2 linked regions of the Homo sapiens genome follow. The protein of the gene in region 2 purifies or fractionates together with the protein of the main gene of each other region. This does not show direct contact. Each region holds a gene or a part of one and is shown on either strand. Other genes may lie near its edges.

Region 1 (8,307 bases), on a different chromosome or scaffold from region 2:
CGGGCCCACTCTACTTTTTTTTTTATTTTACAATTTTTAATTTTTGTGGCTACATAGTAGGTAGTAGGTGCATATATTTCTGGGGTACATGAGATGTTTTGGTACAGGCATGCAATATGAAATAATCATATCATGCAAAACAGGTTAGCCATCCCCCTCAAGCATTTATCCTTTGTGTTACAAACAATCCAGTCATACTAGTAGTTATTTTTAAATGAACAATTAAATTATTATTGACTATAATTACCCTGTTGTGCTATCAAATACCAGGCCTTATTAATTCATTCTATTTTTTTATACCCATTAACCATTCCTACCTCCTTCCCACCCCCCAGTACCCTTCGCAGTCTCCAATAACCACCTACTCTCTATCTCCAGGCCCCACCCTATTTTGTTTTTCTTTCGAGACGGAGTCTCGCTCTGTCACCCAGGCTGGAGTACAGTGGCGCGAGGTCAGCTCACTGCAACCTCCGCTTCCTGGGTTCAAGCGATCCTATGCCTCAGCCTCCCAAGTAGCTACGATTACAAGCATGCGCCACCAGGCCCGGCTAATGTTCGTATTTTTAGTAGAGATAGGGTTTCACCATGTTAGCCAGACTGGTCTCAAACTCCTGACCTCAAGTGATCCACCTGCCTCGGCCTCCCAAAGTGCTGGGATCCTGGGCATGGTGGCGCAGAAGTTGCAGTGAGCTAAGATTGTGCCACTGCACTCCAGCATGGACAACAGAGTGAGACTTCATCTAAAAAGAAAGAAAGGAAATATGGTTGAGATCTGGTGATTCTATCTGCTGGTTAAAGGTTGTTAAGCAGATTGAAACAAGCACTTGCTCATTTGTTATACTATGTGTATCAGACAAGCACTAAAATGGACAGTAGATCTGGTAATTTCTATTCAGAGGTAATTAAAAGGAAAGAAAGAAGGCATCACTAGGGGGTAATGGGAACATGCACAGGATTTCAATATCGGAAGAACCTGTTGCTAGAGGAAACCACCAGCGGTATTTCCTTTCCGTCTTTTACACAGCTCCCAGGAAAACCACTTGCCAACTCATATCCCCTAAGTGTGCAACACAAAATTGTTGGACAGCCTAAACATCTCAGGTCTTTCTGTATTTTGCAGCCTTGACAGCACCCAGCCCAAGCTTAGGAACAATGGTTGACTCTCTAGAAAAGCAGGTTAAGTCTCATTAGGAATGGGTCCCAAATGCTAAGGGCCTGGGTAACCAAGAATGATCAGTATCCAGGACAGATAATTATAAAACCTCAAAATCATAATTTTTCTAAGGAGACTTTACTTAAGTACCTGGCCTTGCTAACTCCCCCAAACAACAAATGGTGGTATCACCTGGCACCTAAATTAAACATTCCAATTTTACCATACCAACCTTAATGCACATAGGTGCTTATTTCACATTTTAAACCTTCACACATATTTTTCTATATTTCCAATTTCAAATGAAGGAAGATATCCTTAAGCTAATCTTAATATCAGAAGAGTGCATTAAATGATTCTACAATAGTTTCCAAACAGAACTTATTAAGAATCTCCCCCGCAAAAGTACCTCCTCCCCTTCCCCAATTTTGTTTCCATTAAAAAAAAAAAAAAAAAAACCCCTTAAGTTCCTTCAAATAAAATCCAAGATACACTGAAAACCCAATCATACCGCCCCTCCCCACCTCTCATGAGTACAACAGAACATCGAAACAAACTATTATTTAAGCTCTCAACCAAATAAAAATGCAAACTGAAACAACCTCTCCTTTTCAGTGTTTTATTATACAAGGTCGCCTCTGCCACGGAGGGTCGTTCTGGTGGGTAGTTTCCAGGTTCTTCCCTAGCAGATGCAGCTTGAGTGTTTCAAGCAAAAAGGATAAAAACAAAAGCACACATTTCAAAGGTAGTTATAACGTTATCCTGTGACAGTTAATGAATTCTGCCTTTAAAATAGCATAATGAAAAATACAAACTGGAAATGATTTAAGCTATCTCCTCCTCCTAAGAATGATGCAACTGAAGGCCCAGTCAGAAAATACTACCTCGCCCCCTCAACCCCAGTGAAAAAGCGTGTTTTAAGAAGATTTCTCTTGATTTCTTTCCTTTTCTTGGCCCATCGTATATAAAATACTCCCATCTTCACTATGTGATAATTCATCGAATTATAGTTTTGTGTGGTTTTTTAAATGCATATTAGACTGCAATAAAAAATGTTTTAAAAATAGCCTGCCTTATTAACTAAAAATAAAAAAGTTGTTGTCAGGAAAAACAGCATGAAATCGGTTTCCATGCTGCTTACACCCCCGCACTACCTGCAACCACTTTACAGAACGTTAGCATCAGACCTGCTTATCTAAAATCCTGCCAAATGTCCTCACAGTCTCCTCCGCTGCCTCGCTGGCTTCTGGGCAGCCAGGGACCAGCCCTCCATGGCTCCCAGCATCGGCAGCCTCGAGGGCTGAGAGCCTTGTTTGCCCCGCTGCCTCGATTGAGGGCCGCGGCCCGGCCACCTGAGCAGCGTTCCCAAGACAGGGAGCGCATCCGGGCGGGAGGAGCACCCGGTCCGGGGCAGACGCCTGGCCGCCCGGGCGAATCTGCCTCTGCCAATGGGTGACACGCCGATTTTGCCCCCTGGAAACGCCAAGAGGCGCGAAGCTGGGCCACCTTCGCCGCGGGCTGCAGCGGCGCTCGCGCGCGTTTCCCAGAACGCAGAGAGAGCGCGCGCGGAGGCCGGGGCAACCCCAGAACCCCGCTCGGTTTATCCTAACGACCCCCATGCCGGCTGCTCCTCGAGGACGGGGACTGGACCCGCAGCACCCCCTCAGGCACCTCCATCCCAAACACACCTGCCGCCCACCCTAAGCCACCCCCCATGTGTACCCACTCACCCAGGTCGCCCCAAGAAAGAACCCCGCCACTCGCACAGAGAGGGGTGCGGCCCTTGGATGCACGTCCGGACGATCCTGGGCCAGGGAAAGGGCGTTTATCTCAGCTCTGCGCCGTGCCCCTTCCCCCCACGCTCGAGGACCTTTGCCCTGGGCCGCCGGGCCCGCCCCCCCACAGGAACCCGAAGCCCTCGGGCGCCCGCCACACTCTGGGGATAATACCTTGAGGCCGGTAGTTGGGCTGAGAGGTCCGCACCGCGCCCGGTTCTGCGATCTTCCCTGGGAGAGAGGTTCCCCGCGCAGTCCCCTCAGGCCGGGATCCCGTCCCGGAGCCGCCGCCGCCGCGCTCCATCGGGATGCGCCGGCCGCACAGGCGCACTGCCAAGCCCGCCGCGCCGCACCGAACCCGCGCGCGTCCGCATGCGCACGCGTCCTCACGCAGCACGCGCGCAGGGCGTGCACGTGCGATAAGCGCACCGGTTACCACGCACAGCGCACGCAAGGCGTGCACGTGCGATAGGCGCACCGCTTCCACGCACAGCGCACGCAGGGCGTGCACGTGCGATAGGCGCACCGGTTCTCACGCGGCGCGCGCTTGTAGCGTGTGCATGCAATGTGCACAACAGTCCTCACACAGCGCGTACGGGCGTGCACGCGTCCTTACACGCTGCTGTACACAGTGCACACACAGAAGGCGTGCGTACGCACACAGTTCTTCATACGATGCTTACATGCAACATGCACACACAACGTGCACACCCAGCGTAAATGCATCTTCTCACAGTAGCAGATACACACTCAAAGCGTGTGTAGATGTAGGGTGCAGTTTCTCAGACACCGTGCACACACATCCTCACTCAATGTGTGAACACAGAGCACATAACGCGCACACACGTGCTCACTCAGCACGCACACGCTTACACTCACTGGGTGTCTGCATGCAAACTCAGCAATGCAGCCTTGGGAACAATTTCTGGCTAGGCCCCCAGGTGGGTGCCAGTTGGGCCAGTGACATCTGTGCAGACGCCAGAGGACCCGCCCTCCATGCATAGTTAGGTTCCAGTTTTCGAGGCGCACGGGTAATCAGTGTTTAGTGACGCCCCACCCTCAGCGTGCGGTCACCCAGAGAGGGACAGCAGCAAGCTATTGGGGTCGATCTTCAACTAAGAGGCAGCGGCACGCGCCGTAGGCCGACCTAGGCCTTTCAACGACACCCTACTCCGCAGCCAATTTGGTTCCTCTTCTCCTGAGGCGTAAATAATGCTGACTGAAACCTCCGCGATGCCGGGTGTGGTGGCTCCCGCCTGTAATCCCAACACTTCGGGAGGCTGACGCGGGCGGATTGATTGAGCTAAGGAGTTCGAGACCCCCGTCTCTACAAAAAAATTTTAAAAATTAGCTGGGCATGGCGACTCATCTGTGGTCCCAGCTACTTGGGAGGCTGAGGCGGGAAGATCGCTTGAGCCCGGGAGGTCGAGACTGCAGTGATCACGCCACTGCACTCCAGCCTGGGCGACAGAGACCTTGTCTCAAAAGCAAAATAAAACAAAAAACCTCTGAGGAGGATCTCTCCGAGAAGACACACAAGAAACTGCTAAACGGGTTGCCTCCTAAGTAGGCACTTTTACCACTGCCATGCACATTTATTATCTTTTCAAAAACATTGAAAAAGACATCTTGGCAGGGCCGGCTCAAGCCTTTTGTTTACCCAGGCCTGCCAAGTGATAACCCGTTCCCATGGAGCCCCAGGCTGCATGTTTTTTCTCGTTGGAAGGTGACCAGCCTGAAAGTTTTATTACCACTCCTGGGGGGAGATATACACGATTAAAAATGAAGCTGAATAATGGGTACAGGTTTTCTTTTTTGGATGAAAATATTCTAGGATTATGATGAGTGCACAACTAAGTATACTAAAAACTATTGAATTGTACATTTTAAGCGGGTGAATTTTATGGTCCCTTAATTATGTCTCATTTTTTTTTTTTTAATGTGAAGCTGAAACTCTCAGGAATGGGCACCTGTACTCTTGGCCAAAGCTGGGAAAGTCCCTTTGTGGCACAAAAAATGTTTGTGATGAACGTGTTCCTGACACGCCCAAAGGTGTGCCGGGAGTAGGGTTCAAGTGTGGTGAGAAAGCCAGGAAGTTTAAACATAAATGAGTAGGAAAGTGAGCAGGTGGGGGCTGGTACCCTGAGCTGTAATGAAAACTCGAACACATTGAGATTAAGCCAAATTAAGAGCGTGGGAGCTGTCACTTTCTCCTCCCTTATCTTAGGGACCTTTGGTGAGTTCAATTCATCCAACTCTTGAGCTCATGGACATGTGTGTGTAGCATCCCTCTCTACTTTTATTCTATTTTTGGGGTCCTTTTACTTTCCATTCCTCTCCCTAATTATAAACACCTCCTCTGATATCTTTGCAGCTGCAATTTTGAAATACTGTTTTGAAGATACGCATGTATTTTAATTGTATATAAATGACACTGCATAAAAGCTATCATTCTATTTGTTTTTCCTCTCTTGGCATTGTTCTCAATCTACACAAAATGATTAGCCATTCTATCTGGTTTACCCTTCTGTAAATTCCCTGTTCAATCCTTGCCCACCTTTCCACTGGGCTACTCTGGTTGATTTCCAGGAGTTTCTTGTATTCTAGATAATTTCTGGTTTAAATGTTGCAAATATTTTATCCTAGCCAACTAAGCTTTTTAAGATTGGTAAAATTTTCCTTAATTTTTATGACAAAATCCTATTAACATGTTTACTCCATTTACAATATTGCCCTATTTTTTATCAACTGTTTTTGAAAGTTACATTACAAATACTTCCATGTGTATTTCCTAAGATTATGAATGTTCTGTTACACATACTAGAGTTGACTACCAACTTAAGTTTCACATGGATACAGTAATTTTCTCTCCATTGGCTGTTCCTCCACCTTAGAGGTAGTTTTCCTCTTGCAAAATGCACTGTGGTGAGGCACCTTAAGGCTATGCAGGTACTTACTCTTCGTCAAAAATTCTCTCTAGATTTAGCATCCATTGATGGTTCTTGCTTGATCTGATCTCATAATGATTACGAAGTGATAAAATCCATAAATTTTTCACCTTATGGTTTGCATTTTAAGAAGTCTTAATACGAACTTCCCTAGTCCCAAGATACTCCCCATTGCCCTCATGCTTATAGTAAAAAACGTAAAAAAAAAAAAAAAAAAAAAAAAAAGTAAAAAATGCTTTACTCTTAAGCAATTTTTCTGTATAGGGTGAGGTAAAGAGCCAAATCCACTTTTCTCTCCGAAGTGTAGTTTGGTCAGCACTACCTGCTTACCTATCCTTTCCCCAGTAATTTTTGAAGCCACTTTTTAAAAAATCAAGTACCTAATTTCCATAGTAGGTGAGATAGCTTCTGAGCTATCTATTCTGATCTTCCTGTTACTGCATCTATTATTCACTACTATGGCTTAGGGTGCAATTTATTTGTTGAATTCCCTCTTAGCAGTGTTTCTAGAATTCTTTGAAATTCAGTATTTCCACATGAATATATTTTAGGATGTTTTTGCAATCTCCCACCAAGGCCTGCTGTAATACTAAATGTAATTATATTGAAGTCAGAGGTTAATTTGGAGAAAATTGACATTTTCGACATTATGACAGAATATCCAATAGTGTAATTTCTATTTAAGCTTTTAAAAAAAATGACTTTCGAGTTTTCCGTGCTTTTCCCACTACACTAACTTCCTATAAAAATCTATAGCATGGCCGGGCGCAGTGGCTCACCCCTGTAGTCCCAGCACTTTGAGAGGCTGAGGCGGCCAGATCACCTGTGGTCGGGAGTTGAGACCAGCCTGACCAATATGGGGAAACCCCATCTCTACTAAAGATACAAAATTAGCCGGGTGTGCTGGCGCATGCCTGTAATCACAGCTACTCAGGAGGCTGAGGCAGGAGAATCACTTGAACCCAGGAGGCCGAGGTTGCGGTGAGCCAAGATCGCGCCATTGCACCCCAGCCTGGGCAACAAGAGCAAAACCCTGTCTCAAAAAAGAGGTTTTTGGCCGGGCATAGTGTCTTACACCTGTAATATCAGCACTTTGGGAAGCCAAGGTGGGAGAAGCACTTGCATCCAGGTGTTAGAGACCAGCCTGGACAAAACTGTGGGACCCCCATCTCTAAAAAATAAAAACAAAACATTCGGGCTTGGTGGTGCACCTGTAGTCCCCACTACTTGGGAGGCTGAGGTAGGAGGATCACTTGAGCCAGGGAGGTTGATGCTGTAGTGAGCTGTGATATGGCGTCACTGCACTCACCCTGGGCAACAGAGCAAGATCCTGTCTCTAAATAAATAAATAAATGAATGAATAAATAAATGGCTGAGTGCAGTAGCTTACATCTGTAATCCCAACACTTTGGGAGGTGGAGGCGAGTAGATCACTTGAGGTCAGGAGTTCCAGACCGGCCTAGCCAACATGGTGAAACCATACTAAAAATATAAAAATTGGCCAGGTGTGGTGGCGCATGCCTGTAATCCCAGCTACTTGGGAAGCTGAGACATGAGAATCGCTTGAACCCGGGAGGCAGAGGTCAGTGAGCTGAGATTGCACTATTGCACTCCAGCCTGGGCAACGGAGACTCCATCTCAAAAAAAAAGTTAGTGTCTCTGACAATGCAATAAAAATTTATTAACCTGAAGAGATTAATCTCATACACTGGTACATCCTAACCTTTGAGTACACATCTTTTCAATATTTCATGTGACAAAGTGGGGAATACTACACAAACCTCTTCTGCATACCAATGTACAGCAGTTGTCTCAAGGAAAAGCATTTGTGATAATTTGTATTCCAAACAACTGGACACTTTCATGAAATATCATTTTTACTTGAAAGAAAAGCTGATAAGCTGGTAATTCAAACTTGGATTTGTGTTCAACATTTTTGCAAAAACGAATAAAATTAGCCTGACACTTCAAGGGAAACAAGTGACCATATTTGTTGGTGGTGATAAAATTTGGGCTTTCCAGCATGAAAAAAGTTTTACAAAACTAGTATCTGCTACCATTAGCTTGACAACTTCACTAAAGTAAGAACTTTTCTGAAGAGACAGTGACATTAATGAAATGTGGCATCTTAATACTGTAGAATGAAAAGGGTCAACATATGGAAGATCATACCTCTGTCAGTTTTTTCCAAGTTTTCCAGGTGTGTGAAGTTACAAAGTCCATTCATAGTTCAAAATAGACCAATGAATTATAATGTAACAGTATGAAACGTTTGTTGATTTGGTGTTAGATTCCACAGTGCAACTTAAGAAATCACCTCTTGTCAAGATTGTGTGTAGTATCAAAGAACATACAAGTATCTGAAAAGACTATTAAAATCTTCCTTTTCCAACTACATACCTCTGAGGCCAGATTTTCTTCATATGCTTTA
Region 2 (8,065 bases):
GTTTTAATATTTTACATAATTAAATATGTACATATTGATTAGAAAAATATAACAAGCAATTTTTCCTGCTAACCCAAAATGTTATTTGTAATCAAATGTGTAGTGATTACACTTGAATTGTGTACTTAGTGTGTATGTGATCCTCCAGTGTTATCCCGGAGATGGATTGATGTCTCCATTGTATTTAAACCAAAATGAACTGATACTTGTTGGAATGTATGTGAACTAATTGCAATTATATTAGAGCATATTACTGTAGTGCTGAATGAGCAGGGGCATTGCCTGCAAGGAGAGGAGACCCTTGGAATTGTTTTGCACAGGTGTGTCTGGTGAGGAGTTTTTCAGTGTGTGTCTCTTCCTTCCCTTTCTTCCTCCTTCCCTTATTGTAGTGCCTTATATGATAATGTAGTGGTTAATAGAGTTTACAGTGAGCTTGCCTTAGGATGGACCAGCAAGCCCCCGTGGACCCTAAGTTGTTCACCGGGATTTATCAGAACAGGATTAGTAGCTGTATTGTGTAATGCATTGTTCTCAGTTTCCCTGCCAACATTGAAAAATAAAAACAGCAGCTTTTCTCCTTTACCACCACCTCTACCCCTTTCCATTTTGGATTCTCGGCTGAGTTCTCACAGAAGCATTTTCCCCATGTGGCTCTCTCACTGTGCGTTGCTACCTTGCTTCTGTGAGAATTCAGGAAGCAGGTGAGAGGAGTCAAGCCAATATTAAATATGCATTCTTTTAAAGTATGTGCAATCACTTTTAGAATGAATTTTTTTTTCCTTTTCCCATGTGGCAGTCCTTCCTGCACATAGTTGACATTCCTAGTAAAATATTTGCTTGTTGAAAAAAACATGTTAACAGATGTGTTTATACCAAAGAGCCTGTTGTATTGCTTACCATGTCCCCATACTATGAGGAGAAGTTTTGTGGTGCCGCTGGTGACAAGGAACTCACAGAAAGGTTTCTTAGCTGGTGAAGAATATAGAGAAGGAACCAAAGCCTGTTGAGTCATTGAGGCTTTTGAGGTTTCTTTTTTAACAGCTTGTATAGTCTTGGGGCCCTTCAAGCTGTGAAATTGTCCTTGTACTCTCAGCTCCTGCATGGATCTGGGTCAAGTAGAAGGTACTGGGGATGGGGACATTCCTGCCCATAAAGGATTTGGGGAAAGAAGATTAATCCTAAAATACAGGTGTGTTCCATCTGAATTGAAAATGATATATTTGAGATATAATTTTAGGACTGGTTCTGTGTAGATAGAGATGGTGTCAAGGAGGTGCAGGATGGAGATGGGAGATTTCATGGAGCCTGGTCAGCCAGCTCTGTACCAGGTTGAACACCGAGGAGCTGTCAAAGTATTTGGAGTTTCTTCATTGTAAGGAGTAAGGGCTTCCAAGATGGGGCAGGTAGTCCGTACAGCCTACCAGGAACATGTTGTGTTTTCTTTATTTTTTAAAATCATTATATTGAGTTGTGTTTTCAGCACTATATTGGTCAAGATAGCCAAGCAGTTTGTATAATTTCTGTCACTAGTGTCATACAGTTTTCTGGTCAACATGTGTGATCTTTGTGTCTCCTTTTTGCCAAGCACATTCTGATTTTCTTGTTGGAACACAGGTCTAGTTTCTAAAGGACAAATTTTTTGTTCCTTGTCTTTTTTCTGTAAGGGACAAGATTTGTTGTTTTTGTAAGAAATGAGATGCAGGAAAGAAAACCAAATCCCATTCCTGCACCCCAGTCCAATAAGCAGATACCACTTAAGATAGGAGTCTAAACTCCACAGAAAAGGATAATACCAAGAGCTTGTATTGTTACCTTAGTCACTTGCCTAGCAGTGTGTGGCTTTAAAAACTAGAGATTTTTCAGTCTTAGTCTGCAAACTGGCATTTCCGATTTTCCAGCATAAAAATCCACCTGTGTCTGCTGAATGTGTATGTATGTGCTCACTGTGGCTTTAGATTCTGTCCCTGGGGTTAGCCCTGTTGGCCCTGACAGGAAGGGAGGAAGCCTGGTGAATTTAGTGAGCAGCTGGCCTGGGTCACAGTGACCTGACCTCAAACCAGCTTAAGGCTTTAAGTCCTCTCTCAGAACTTGGCATTTCCAACTTCTTCCTTTCCGGGTGAGAGAAGAAGCGGAGAAGGGTTCAGTGTAGCCACTCTGGGCTCATAGGGACACTTGGTCACTCCAGAGTTTTTAATAGCTCCCAGGAGGTGATATTATTTTCAGTGCTCAGCTGAAATACCAACCCCAGGAATAAGAACTCCATTTCAAACAGTTCTGGCCATTCTGAGCCTGCTTTTGTGATTGCTCATCCATTGTCCTCCACTAGAGGGGCTAAGCTTGACTGCCCTTAGCCAGGCAAGCACAGTAATGTGTGTTTTGTTCAGCATTATTATGCAAAAATTCACTAGTTGAGATGGTTTGTTTTAGGATAGGAAATGAAATTGCCTCTCAGTGACAGGAGTGGCCCGAGCCTGCTTCCTATTTTGATTTTTTTTTTTTTTAACTGATAGATGGTGCAGCATGTCTACATGGTTGTTTGTTGCTAAACTTTATATAATGTGTGGTTTCAATTCAGCTTGAAAAATAATCTCACTACATGTAGCAGTACATTATATGTACATTATATGTAATGTTAGTATTTCTGCTTTGAATCCTTGATATTGCAATGGAATTCCTACTTTATTAAATGTATTTGATATGCTAGTTATTGTGTGCGATTTAAACTTTTTTTGCTTTCTCCCTTTTTTTGGTTGTGCGCTTTCTTTTACAACAAGCCTCTAGAAACAGATAGTTTCTGAGAATTACTGAGCTATGTTTGTAATGCAGATGTACTTAGGGAGTATGTAAAATAATCATTTTAACAAAAGAAATAGATATTTAAAATTTAATACTAACTATGGGAAAAGGGTCCATTGTGTAAAACATAGTTTATCTTTGGATTCAATGTTTGTCTTTGGTTTTACAAAGTAGCTTGTATTTTCAGTATTTTCTACATAATATGGTAAAATGTAGAGCAATTGCAATGCATCAATAAAATGGGTAAATTTTCTGACTTATGTGGCTGTTTTTGACTTCTGTTATAGGATATAAAGGGGATCAATAAATGACATCTTTGAAAGTGGCTAAGCATATTGTATTTGAACATCAGTAGAGTACTAGAGACAATTTCATTCTTCACACAAATCTCCATACTGGAAATGAATAGGGTTTGGCAGGGAATACTTCCCAAGAATGCAGTGTCCAGGGTCCTTACTTCACATCATCTGGATCTGACCCTTTGAAAGAGGTAGAAGACTTCTGAGACCGGCTAATTAAGCTTTGTTTCCTCATATGTTTTGCCAGATAGCAGTAGCAGAATGAAAAGATGAGTAACCACAGGAAGCTGCTATTTTTCCCCTCCTTTCAAACTGTACTGTTAGAGTCATGGTCCTTTTTACAGAAGGAACCTCTCATCAGATTCTGTTGATTCTAAAGTGAATAGAATTTCTCCCGATAAAGAAATAGGGGTTTGTTTCGATTAATGACTGCAGGTCTCTGAGTAAATGCTCTATTTGATTTTTTTTTTCGGCCCGTGTGTCTACCTTATGGCCCAAGTCTACCTTATGGTGGCCATTAATTCATTTTGGGCTCCTGCAGCCTTAGTTGGGATATAGAAATGAGAAACACTCAGAAATACCCTTTTGGACCACAACCAAGAGAAATAACCAATAGTCTTTTCTCCCAGTGGTAAGGAAGTCAGAATACATTGATCTAGACTGCAACAACATATATATATATATCAGATTCCGCCCCCCCGCAATACATGAATGTATAGTAAATTAGTGTGAACTCACTGAACACTCCTCAGTTTTGGTGAGAGACTATATCTGGCCTCTTTCAAGCAAAGGAAAGCCATGTAAAACAGCGCTGCTGTCAGCCTTAACTTCCAGACGATCGAGTTAATTTACTAACTTCTCAGTGACCTGTTTTTTTTTTTTTTTTAATCTCAGTTATATTTTCTTCCTTGGGCTAAATCAGATATTTGCATAGCCCCCAAAGTAGTAATTGGATAGTCTTGGGGGAAATATGCATTTCAGTGGTGAAAACCCCTGTAAATTCAATATATTTGGCTTTTGTGGAAAATTTTCCTCATGGGGTGAAGTCTAAGCCTTAGTTTCTGTATTATCATGAGAGATGACACCAGCTGCTTAGCACAAGGTGGCGCCAATGAGCTTTAGAATAAGTTGGGCTTGACCACTTGGGCCATTGTTTTCCTGCTTCCTCCCTTCAAGCCTCACCTCCCCAGCTCCCAGCTTCTACTGAACAAGGCTGAAAACCCACTCTATTGCAGGGAAAGGGAAAGATTAATGAAAAATGTCAGTTTCTTAAGTCAGCACTGGTGAAACTTTCCTAAAACAGGAATGGCGTTTGCTGAGTTTTCTCTGGGGTCTCTGCTTTCTGCAGCTAGCTTCCCTGCTTGACTGCCTAGAAGGCCTCTGCTTTCGGGTTTCCATCTCTTTCCCCTCCAGAGGACCCTACAGCCTAGGCGGGAGGTGGTTAAGGCTTCTGGCTGCTGTGCAATGGGGCCATCTGTGTTTGATCAATCCTGGCGGAAAGGAGGGGGTGGGGGTTGTAAAGAGAACTGAAAGCATTCCAGAGTAGTGAGAGAGACCCAGAGATCAGGAGAGAAGGCACCGCCCCCACCCCGCCTCCAAAGCTAACCCTCGGGCTTGAGGGGAAGAGGCTGACTGTACGTTCCTTCTACTCTGGCACCACTCTCCAGGCTGCCATGGGGCCCAGCACCCCTCTCCTCATCTTGTTCCTTTTGTCATGGTCGGGACCCCTCCAAGGACAGCAGCACCACCTTGTGGAGTACATGGAACGCCGACTAGCTGCTTTAGAGGTGAGGGACCCCTTTCTCTTCTAGCCCCGCCTAGAAGGATTCCAGGGCTATTGGTTCAACCAGTTTGTTAGGGATCTGGGGATAACAAGAAAGGGCTCTGTTAGAGTCTACAGAAAATTCTCTCTTAATAAGAGGACCTTCGGAATGACAAGCCCTCCTCTTACCCCACATAGAACAATTCCAAAGCAAATCGACTTTTGCGTTTTACCTCTGGGATTAGATAGAATAAGGGGGCAGAGTGGAAACGAGAGCCAAAATTGTGGGGCTGCATCTCCAGAGAAGGTGATGATTCTGTTGAAGTTGGAGGTTCCCGGGGAATCTATAACTTCCTGTCTTTTTAACAGGTTGAGATCCGTAGCATTTTAGTGTCCGAGAGGATAATTGCTAAGGGAGCAGAGACCTCTTCACACCTTCATGCGCTTAGACCTGCCTAGAGGCTCAGATGGCTCAGTGGCACTGCTCACAGAGAACACAGGCTGGAGGACATGGAGTCGGGGTAGGGGCCTAGGTGAATCTCAGCTAGGCTCTTTGCACATTTAGCACCTCTGCACATCTGGTTTCCTTTTCTGCAGGAGTGGAAGGGGATATTGAAGCCTGGCTGAGTTTGCTCTTTTTTTCCCATTCCTGACTCCCGAGTTGGGCCTCTCCCTGCCTGGGAGTTGTAACCCTGCAGCCTCCCTCCTGATCCCCCATCCCTTCAGGAACGGCTGGCCCAGTGCCAGGACCAGAGTAGTCGGCATGCTGCTGAGCTGCGGGACTTCAAGAACAAGATGCTGCCACTGCTGGAGGTGGCAGAGAAGGAGCGGGAGGCACTCAGAACTGAGGCCGACACCATCTCCGGGAGAGTGGATCGTCTGGAGCGGGAGGTAGACTATCTGGAGACCCAGAACCCAGCTCTGCCCTGTGTAGAGTTTGATGAGAAGGTGACTGGAGGCCCTGGGACCAAAGGCAAGGGAAGAAGGAATGAGAAGTACGATATGGTGACAGGTAAATAATCTGAAAGCAGGCCCCTAACTCTTCTCAGAACCGATATTCTTCCTTCCTTGCTTCTTACTCTTTTTTTCGCTTTGTCCCAGTCCATTGTGGCTCTGTCTTCTGGAATCTGTTTTAGGGAAACCTCTGTAATGCCAGGTCTATTAAGGAGAGGTTCTGGGGATCCAGGCCGCTGTGGTACCCGCTCTTTCTCAATTCTCCCTAAGATTGGAGGCAACCACTGGGCAAATGCTCACTATTCTCCAGATCACCCACCCTGGGGGAGTTCCTGCTGGAGGCATCTAATTCTTGCCTCTATTTCCTTTTCCTGTGCTTTTCTCATCAGACTGTGGCTACACAATCTCTCAAGTGAGATCAATGAAGATTCTGAAGCGATTTGGTGGCCCAGCTGGTCTATGGACCAAGGATCCACTGGGGCAAACAGAGAAGATCTACGTGTTAGATGGGACACAGAATGACACAGCCTTTGTCTTCCCAAGGCTGCGTGACTTCACCCTTGCCATGGCTGCCCGGAAAGCTTCCCGAGTCCGGGTGCCCTTCCCCTGGGTAGGCACAGGGCAGCTGGTATATGGTGGCTTTCTTTATTTTGCTCGGAGGCCTCCTGGAAGACCTGGTGGAGGTGGTGAGATGGAGAACACTTTGCAGCTAATCAAATTCCACCTGGCAAACCGAACAGTGGTGGACAGCTCAGTATTCCCAGCAGAGGGGCTGATCCCCCCCTACGGCTTGACAGCAGACACCTACATCGACCTGGCAGCTGATGAGGAAGGTCTTTGGGCTGTCTATGCCACCCGGGAGGATGACAGGCACTTGTGTCTGGCCAAGTTAGATCCACAGACACTGGACACAGAGCAGCAGTGGGACACACCATGTCCCAGAGAGAATGCTGAGGCTGCCTTTGTCATCTGTGGGACCCTCTATGTCGTCTATAACACCCGTCCTGCCAGTCGGGCCCGCATCCAGTGCTCCTTTGATGCCAGCGGCACCCTGACCCCTGAACGGGCAGCACTCCCTTATTTTCCCCGCAGATATGGTGCCCATGCCAGCCTCCGCTATAACCCCCGAGAACGCCAGCTCTATGCCTGGGATGATGGCTACCAGATTGTCTATAAGCTGGAGATGAGGAAGAAAGAGGAGGAGGTTTGAGGAGCTAGCCTTGTTTTTTGCATCTTTCTCACTCCCATACATTTATATTATATCCCCACTAAATTTCTTGTTCCTCATTCTTCAAATGTGGGCCAGTTGTGGCTCAAATCCTCTATATTTTTAGCCAATGGCAATCAAATTCTTTCAGCTCCTTTGTTTCATACGGAACTCCAGATCCTGAGTAATCCTTTTAGAGCCCGAAGAGTCAAAACCCTCAATGTTCCCTCCTGCTCTCCTGCCCCATGTCAACAAATTTCAGGCTAAGGATGCCCCAGACCCAGGGCTCTAACCTTGTATGCGGGCAGGCCCAGGGAGCAGGCAGCAGTGTTCTTCCCCTCAGAGTGACTTGGGGAGGGAGAAATAGGAGGAGACGTCCAGCTCTGTCCTCTCTTCCTCACTCCTCCCTTCAGTGTCCTGAGGAACAGGACTTTCTCCACATTGTTTTGTATTGCAACATTTTGCATTAAAAGGAAAATCCACTGCTCCTCTCCTGTGTTTGTTTGGGGTAGCCCTCAGATCAAACTTCCCCCTGACCATCCAGTTTCTCCCTCCCAACCCATCCCCACTCCTTGAGCCATATTAAAGACTTGGGCGGGGCTCCCTTTGCTGAGGAAGAGTTTACTGTGAGGCGCCTGGGGGAGGTGGCAGAATCCCGCCACTTTAGGAGGCTGGACGAAAGGCCTCCTTCCACACCCACCGCCATCCACAGCAGCCAATCCACAGCAGCCATCCTAGAACCTCAGTGGCACCGTGCCTCTGGCTGTGAGACACTGGGGCCCAGGGCAGAGATTCCAGTTCCGATTCTCAGAGGATTTTGAACTACAAAATGCATGTTAGTTGCATTGCATTCTAGTGTGGAAACCAGAGCCCTGAATGCCTGTGTTTTTAGTAAGAACTGAAGTCTCCCCTCTAAAGTGGACTCTGCCCCGCACCCCAGACCTCCACTCCCACCTCCAGCGTTGTGCTCCTGCAGGGCCAGGTTGCACAATCATTCTTGGTCTGGACCGCTCTGATTTTCCTGCTGCCACGGCGTCTGCGGTTTGT

Evidence for each region. The genes of interacting proteins can lie anywhere in the genome.
Region 1: the proteins of OLFML3 (region 2) and MAP7D2 purify together in Homo sapiens (affinity purification with mass spectrometry; 2 studies listed by BioGRID and IntAct, with this or other methods). This does not show direct contact.

Annotation. Positions count from the first base shown.
Region 1 is NC_000023.11:20,113,648-20,121,954, forward strand, and holds the start of MAP7D2 (MAP7 domain-containing protein 2), read right to left. Parts: upstream 3,261-8,307; 5' UTR 3,233-3,260; coding exon 3,103-3,232; intron 2,994-3,102; exon of another isoform or gene 2,884-2,993; intron 1-2,883. UniProt on the Homo sapiens protein: Microtubule-stabilizing protein that plays a role in the control of cell motility and neurite outgrowth via direct binding to the microtubule. Acts as a critical cofactor for kinesin transport.
Region 2 is NC_000001.11:113,974,749-113,982,813, forward strand, and holds OLFML3 (olfactomedin-like protein 3 isoform 1 precursor), read left to right. Parts: upstream 1-4,725; 5' UTR 4,726-4,768; coding exon 4,769-4,882; intron 4,883-4,975; exon of another isoform or gene 4,976-5,324; coding exon of another isoform or gene 5,325-5,378; intron 5,379-5,454; exon of another isoform or gene 5,455-5,583; coding exon 5,584-5,869; intron 5,870-6,200; coding exon 6,201-7,021; 3' UTR 7,022-7,505; downstream 7,506-8,065. UniProt on the Homo sapiens protein: Secreted scaffold protein that plays an essential role in dorsoventral patterning during early development. Stabilizes axial formation by restricting chordin (CHRD) activity on the dorsal side.